Linked DNA regions of Homo sapiens. The protein of the gene in region 1 purifies or fractionates together with the protein of each later gene. This does not show direct contact. Each region holds a gene or a part of one and is shown on either strand. Other genes may lie near its edges.

Region 1 (3,653 bases):
AGGCACTGTGTAAGCACAGTGGAAATAAAATAATACTTTGCTCCTGCTCTGACAGGTATGGTCTTTGTGGGAAGGATGGTCAGGCAAGTACATTTCCCAGGATATATGACATCAGTGATGGTTATCAGAAGAATATACAGATTGTTAAGTCATTACGCACATCATAAAGTCAAATGTAATAGGAAGTTTCTGGGTTTTTTTTTGACATGGTTTGCAAATATTCTGATTACTTGAAGGCCATGATAGGGCATGAATTAGTATAGAGTAGTATCTGTTGTGATTCACATCTGGTTCCTGAGTTCGGATAGTAGTAATTCTCATGGTAAATTAGAAAAGTGATAAATTCGTCTGGAAATTTATTCATATCTATTTGGATAGTAAGAGTTCACTCCTTAAGCCTAAAATAATATGGTTGCGTCTTTGTTGATATTTTTTAATAATCACACTATATTTAGTGCTTCTGGATCATCAGTAATGGGATGAATTAGATGATCTCTCTAGTCTCTTTCCCTTGAAGAATTTCTTGAATCTATTATTTTTAGATACTCAGTTACCAGTTAATAATAAATTTACTTTTTCAGTAATGTTTTTACTGAAGTGAACCTTACATGACATAAAATCATTTTAGTGTTAGTGGCATTTAATATGTTCACAAAGTTGTATAACCACCACTTCTTCCTAGTTCCAAAACATCATTATTTCTTTTTTCACTTTAGGATTTTTGCAATGAAGGAAATCAGTTTTGGGCTTGGCCTAATTTTTGGTTTATATTGAGCCGTTTAACTTGCTGTATTATAATTCTCGATGCAATGTAAAATTAGTAAAACATTACAATAAAAAATTTAAAAACTATATCCAGTGCTAGTAGGAGTCTTATGATTCTCTTACAGTTGTGTTTGTTTTTTGGTCATGTTTTATATTCCATGGCTCCCATATTTTCTCTATCTTAATAGATAGAGAAATAATAATTATTTCTTAATAAAAATTAATTTCTTAATAAAAATAATTCATTTTTAAATAAATTTAGTTATGCTACATCAGTGATATACAGCATAACTTTGGATTGTTAACTAGAGCATGGAGATGCTTATTCAAAAAACAAAACTGGTTTTGGGATTTAGGAGATGTAGGCGTTATCTCTAGTTCTGATGATGGTGGGATTTTCATGGGGATAGTGTTGAATCTGTAGATCAATTTGGAGACAATTGCCAGTTTCACAGTCTATGAACATGGTAGATCTATTTATTTAGGTCTTTGATTTATATCTTTAATCTTTTGTAGTTTTCAGCAGAAAGTTCTTGTGTGTATTTTGTTCGATTTCATATTTTTTAAAAGTACTTCTGTGAGTGATACTGTTCTTAAATGTTTCCAGTTCATTGTTCATTGCTAATTTGTAGAAATACAATAGATTTTTATATTCTAATTTATAGCCTACAACCTTCCTAAACATACTTATTCTGGTGGCTTCTTTGTAGATTCCTTCTGATTTTCTGTGTAGACAACCATGTCGTATTTGAATAGAGAGAATTTTCTTTCTTTGCAATCTGTATCTCTTTTACTTCTTTATTTTGTCCTGTTTGTACAGTCTAGCAATTGATACAATTGATAAATGACAACAGGCTATCCCATTTCTTTCTGTATTAACTGTGGGAACAATGTATCTAAATAGAGGGCCAGTTTTCAAATAAAGTTAATCCTCACTTTGCCTCCTATTGTGTTAACTGAAACATGCCTATATCAGAACTGTGTTCATGCTTTCCCTGGAACTGAAGCTTTGCAAAACCAGGACATGGTTCTGATATGTATGAGCTTTAGTTCACAGGGTGCTTTGCAAGGCGAGGACTGAATTTTTTCTTAGCAATACAGATATGCTAAATCTAGATCTTTCCTGGGGATAGTTTTCCCTTTGAACAGTCACCAATTTTTTAAATTGGGAAAATGTAGGTTTTTGTTTGTTTGTTTGTTTTGCTTTTAAAATTACCAGGCAAAATGATGAAGTAGTAGTAAGATGGAAACTGTGGACAAAAATGAAATTGTTAGGATTTTCTGTGGGTTTACTGGGCATGCAGTATTTATTGGTTGTTTTTATTGATTGTGGTTAATATCTGTCTTTGTTTCCTACTTAGATAAATAAGATGAAATTAATAATTGGCTATGAATGTTTTCTGTCATGTATATAGTATAATGATGCCATATCATATTTTATGTTTCCTCAAATTATATACTTTTATTATTTAATTTAACTGAAAGAGGCTTACTTGATATTTTCAGTGTGTGTTTGTTCTTACTTATTTTAGATAATGTGCAAAATGGCTCCCATGGTTGGGAAGGATATTACAGAGCGTCTTATCCTCCCTAGGTTTTGTGAGATGTGCTGCGATTGCAGAATGTTTCACGTTCGAAAGGTATTTTTTTGTCGTTTTTTTTCTGCTGTTTAAGAACATAGTTCTAGTGGTTAATGTACTGATACATGATATTTAAAAGATTATCTTAGAAGAACCTTATGTGTAATATTTTGAAATGTCAATGATGCTTTTGTTGTCAGGTCTGTGCTGCCAATTTTGGAGATATTTGCAGTGTAGTTGGCCAGCAAGCTACTGAAGAAATGTTGGTAAGTATTGCAGATATAAAGGAGTAAACAGTGTGTGTTACAAAGTAGTACATAAAGTTTGAAATGCACACATTTACTCCAAAGTTTTATTAACACAATTCCATGAATATAAACCAGAAAGATAATTTTGAATTTAGGAGTTTAAATATCTGTAATCTGGGCATTTGAATTATCTTTTTGATATTTATTAAAAATATGGATATGTTTCAGAACCATTGATCTGTTTTCACCTCTTCCATTTCTGTTAAGCAAATCAATTCTTACTTATTCAATTGAACCTTTAATTTTATTGCAACCCTCAAGAATGTTGATGACATATTAAATCTATAGCAAGTTAGTTTTAAATAGTACACAAGATGCCTATACTTGATGTATAAGTCACCATATCTAAAGAGTTTCTGAAGCCATCTCTTATGCAAAATAATTAAGTTCAGGGGCAAGCTCTTGTAAAACATTTAAGCTATGATTGTTGGGAGTGCTTTTGCATAGCCAGAAATATTGCATAAGACAATCCAGTATGCTTTTGCATAGCCAGAAATCCGACGGACCAAATTATCAGCACTTTTTATTAATTTATCAGTGATCTTTCATGTTGGGTAGGGTTTTGATTATCACTTTTGTGAAATAATACATTTCTGTCCGTTTTAAAGCAAACATAATTTTGACTCATAAGAAATAACTTAAAATTTAAGATATATTATTATATGTTATATATTTATAATTTAAGATACATTATTTTTTATACTTTTAGGAATAGACAGTAAATTAGATGTGATTTATTGAAAATTGTTGAGTATAAATACTAATAGATCCTACTTTTTAAGACAATCCAACATTTAAAACACTGAGGCTGGGCGTGGTGGCTCACACCTGTAATCCTAGCACTTTGGGAGGCCAAGGCAGGTGGATCACCTGAGGTCAGGAGTTCGAGACCAGCCTGGCCAACATGGTGAACCCTCATTTCTACTAAAAATACAAAAATTAGCTGGGCGTGGTGGCACACGTCTGTAATCCCAGCTACTTGGGAGGCTGAGGCAGGAGA
Region 2 (3,653 bases), on another chromosome or scaffold:
CTTAGGGCCTCCTCTGTGCCAAGGCTTAGAGCCTTGTAAAGCTGCTTTATCTGCATTAGTTCCCATCCTTATAACATCTCTGTAATGTAAGTTTATAATCCCCATATTACTGATGAGAAAGAGACCACAAGATTAAGAAACCTGCCAAAAGTTACACAGCCAAGGGATTGAGTGGAGCCTAATATTAAAGACTGTCTGACTCTTCAGCCCACATTATTGGTGTACTAGAGAGACAAGAATGGATGTCAGAAAACAGGTTCGGGGGGCAGTACGGGGTGGGATGGCTGAACAATCTATGGTCTTCTAGGATTTCCAGGTGCCAGGGAGCTGGAGGGTTAGAACTAGGTAAGCTTGAAAGTCCCTTCCACCTCTAACAGTCTACGATTCTATCACTACGGTTTATACTGCAAGTTGAGTATCCCTTGTCCAAAATGCTTGAGACCAGAAGTGTTTCAGATTTTAAACTTTTTCAGTTTTTGGACTATGTGCTTTATACTGACCAGTGAGCATTCCAAATTCAAAAATCCAAAATCTGAAATACTCCAATCATTTTTTTTTCCTTTGAGTATCATGTTGGTGCTCAAAAAGTTTCAGATTTTGGAGCATTTTGCATTTTGGAGTTTCAGGTTTGGAATGCTCAACCTGTACTTTAAAAAAGAACAAAGAGAAGACCTCAAAGGCTGAAATCTACATGAGGCAAAGAGTTCGCAGGATGCTCCAGGATCAAAGTAAGGAGAGCTACCACAATTGAAGACCTGAAAGTTGGCAGTAGAGATATGGGATCCAGAAACTAGGGTTCAATACAGAGAAGCAAAGGGAAATCCCAGGAAAAAGGTGAAGGAAGATCCCAGGACAAGAGCTGTGAACAGACATAAAGAGCAACCAGCTCATGCTGGACGACATAGACAGTACCCAGGAGAGGAGAATCATACTTCTACCGGATAATCCGGGCATGAACAAGAGATAAGGATACAAAAAGCCATGCTAATAAAAACAGTAACAAAAATTATTAATGCCAGGGAAGACAAAAAAGTTATACAAGATAGAATATGTTACCACAGGCAGGATGCAATGGCCCATTCCTGTAATCATAGTACTCTGGGAGGCCAAAGTGAGAAGATCACTTGAGGCCGGGAGTTTGAGACCAGCCTGGGCAATGTAGTGAGACCCCCACCTCTACAAAATATTTAGAAATTAGCCAAGCCTGGTGGCACACACCTGTGGTCCTAGCTACTCAGGAGGTAGAAGTGGGAAGGTTGCTTGAGCCCAAAAAGTTAAGGCTGCAGTGAGCTGTGATCCTGCTATGGCAGGGTGACAGAGAGAGACCCTATCTCAAAAAATAAATAAATAAATAAAAAGAGTAAAGAAAATATTAGTATATCATACTCCCTATTCAGTTGAGAATAATACTAACATAATTTTATTAATATAAATCTTGATATTAGCCTAACCAAAAATTATGAGCAAACTATATTGGGAGGATAAAGTGAGTAAGAGGAGGAGTAGGGGGAGGTTGATGATACAAGAGACCTAGAGCCTCAAAGTCCATAATAAAGAAGTACAATTGGACAGGTGTGGTGGCTCACAACTGTAATCCCAATATTTTGGGAGGCTGAGGCAGGAGGATCACTTGAACCCAGGAGGCAGAGGTTGCAGTGAACCAAGATCGTGCCACTGCACTCCAGCCTGGGCGACAGAGCAAGACACAGTCTCAAAAAAAAAAAAAAAAAAAAGAAAAGAAAAGAAAAGAAAAAATAAATATAGTGATGGCCAGGATCAGTGAGTGGCTCACACCTGTAATCCCAGCACTTTGGGAAGCTGAGGTGGGCGGATTGCTTTAGGCCAGGAGTTCTAGACCAGCCTGGGTAACATGGTGAAACCCTGTCTCTACTAAAAATACAAAAAGTAGGCTGGGCACAGCGGCTCAAGTCTGTAATCCCAGCACTTTGGAAGGCTGAGGCAGGAGGATCACCTGAGGTCAGGAGTTTGAGACCAGCCTGGCCAACGTGGCGAAACCACGTCTCTCCTAAAAATACAAAAAATTAGCCAGGCATGGTGGCAGGCACCTGTAATCTCAGCTACTCAGAAGGCCGAGGCAGGAGAATCACTTGAACCCGCGAGGCAGAGGTTGTGGTGAGGCGAGGTCGCACCACTGCACTCCAGTCTGGGCAACAGAGCGAAACTCCATCTCAAAAAAAAAAAGTGGGTCGGGAGAGGAAACTATTATTTAGTGTTACAAGCTCTACTGAACTATTTGACTGTTTAAACCATGTACATGTACAATTTTGACAAAAATTAAATTAAAAAATCCATGTATTATGAAGATATTATGGTATTGTTCAAGATAATGAATGGAGAAAGTAGCTTAATAGATAAGGAAAATGTTGAAAAGTTATTTTTAGTGCAAGCACTTTCTACTACCTAAGAACTTCTTTAAAGATGTTCAATAACAGAAATGATAACAAAATAAGGAATCTTAGAGGCATGAAGAGCCAACCTACAAATGGTAAACAGTGGCTACTTACTCTTTTCACTATGCAACATTTACAGTAACTCTATAGAAACTGTATCTACATACACAGGTCTGAAACAGAGGACTTCAGAAGTTGGTCTTGAGTACTGTGGAGAAGGAAAGAAAAACAAGGAAGATACAGAAGCAGCAGAGAAGAACAGTAGGGAGAAAAGACACTGCAAAGAAGCAGCAGTCAGGATGACCAGATAGCGAAAACATACCTGAGAAGGTTAGTTCCTCCTTACTCAAAGACTCTCAGAAAATCCATAGGAAAGCTGGAAAGAGAACACTATGAGATGCTCAGTCAATTAACTTCTGACTCTTTTTTTTTTTTTTTTTTTTGAGACAGAGTCTTGCTCTGTTGCCCAGGCTGGAGTGCAGTGGCGTGATCTCAGCTCACTGCAACCTCTGCATCCCGGGTTTAAGTAATTCTCCTGCCTCAGCCTCCCAAGTAGCTGAGACTAAAGGCTCACGCCAACATGCCCACCTAATTTTTTTGTATTTTTTGGTAGAGACGGGGTTTTGCCATGTTGGTCAGGCTGGTCTCAAACTCCTGGCCTCAAGTGATCCACCTGCCTTGGCCTCCCAAAGTACTGAGTACAGGCAGGAGCCACCACGCCCGGCCTGACTCTTTCAATAAAGGTCAAAGATACCTGATATGATTTCACAAAACTCCTTTCCTAGTTTAAGTGCCCCAAGTATACCTTTCTCCCCTTTAGGGGTCCTAACGAAACAGAGTAGAGCCTCAGACACTCCTGGACCCTGTCAGTTCCAAAAGGCAATGCCCAAACCTCCCTGAATGATGTGATTTCACAGGACTGAAGAATCTTACCTTTCTCCCTTCCACATACCGGTCTGAGCAGAGCCGAATAGCTTCATTTTAAACTAGAGTCTAGAAGTTAGAGGAGGGGGGCCAGGCAGAGGAAGGAGCGATGCTAACTGTAGACTGAGTATAAGACACCTTAAACACATACAATTTACCACTTACCAGATCTGATCCCTCAATTCTAACACTTTTCCTTTCTATGTCCCAATAAAATTGCCACAAATAAATGAACACTCCAACCCTATTCTTGTCTCAGCAAATAATTTGTTGAGCAACCTTAAGAATTAAAAAGGCAAAAAAACTGGCTAGACAGGT

What was found. The genes of interacting proteins can lie anywhere in the genome.
Region 2: the proteins of PPP4R1 (region 1) and FASTKD5 purify together in Homo sapiens (affinity purification with mass spectrometry; one large-scale study listed by BioGRID and IntAct). This does not show direct contact.

Annotation. Positions count from the first base shown.
Region 1 is NC_000018.10:9,583,473-9,587,125, reverse strand, and holds part of PPP4R1 (serine/threonine-protein phosphatase 4 regulatory subunit 1), read left to right. Parts: intron 1-2,297; coding exon 2,298-2,405; intron 2,406-2,545; coding exon 2,546-2,611; intron 2,612-3,653. UniProt on the Homo sapiens protein: Regulatory subunit of serine/threonine-protein phosphatase 4. May play a role in regulation of cell division in renal glomeruli. The PPP4C-PPP4R1 PP4 complex may play a role in dephosphorylation and regulation of HDAC3.
Region 2 is NC_000020.11:3,153,340-3,156,992, forward strand, and holds part of FASTKD5 (FAST kinase domain-containing protein 5, mitochondrial), read right to left. Parts: intron 1-3,653. UniProt on the Homo sapiens protein: Plays an important role in the processing of non-canonical mitochondrial mRNA precursors.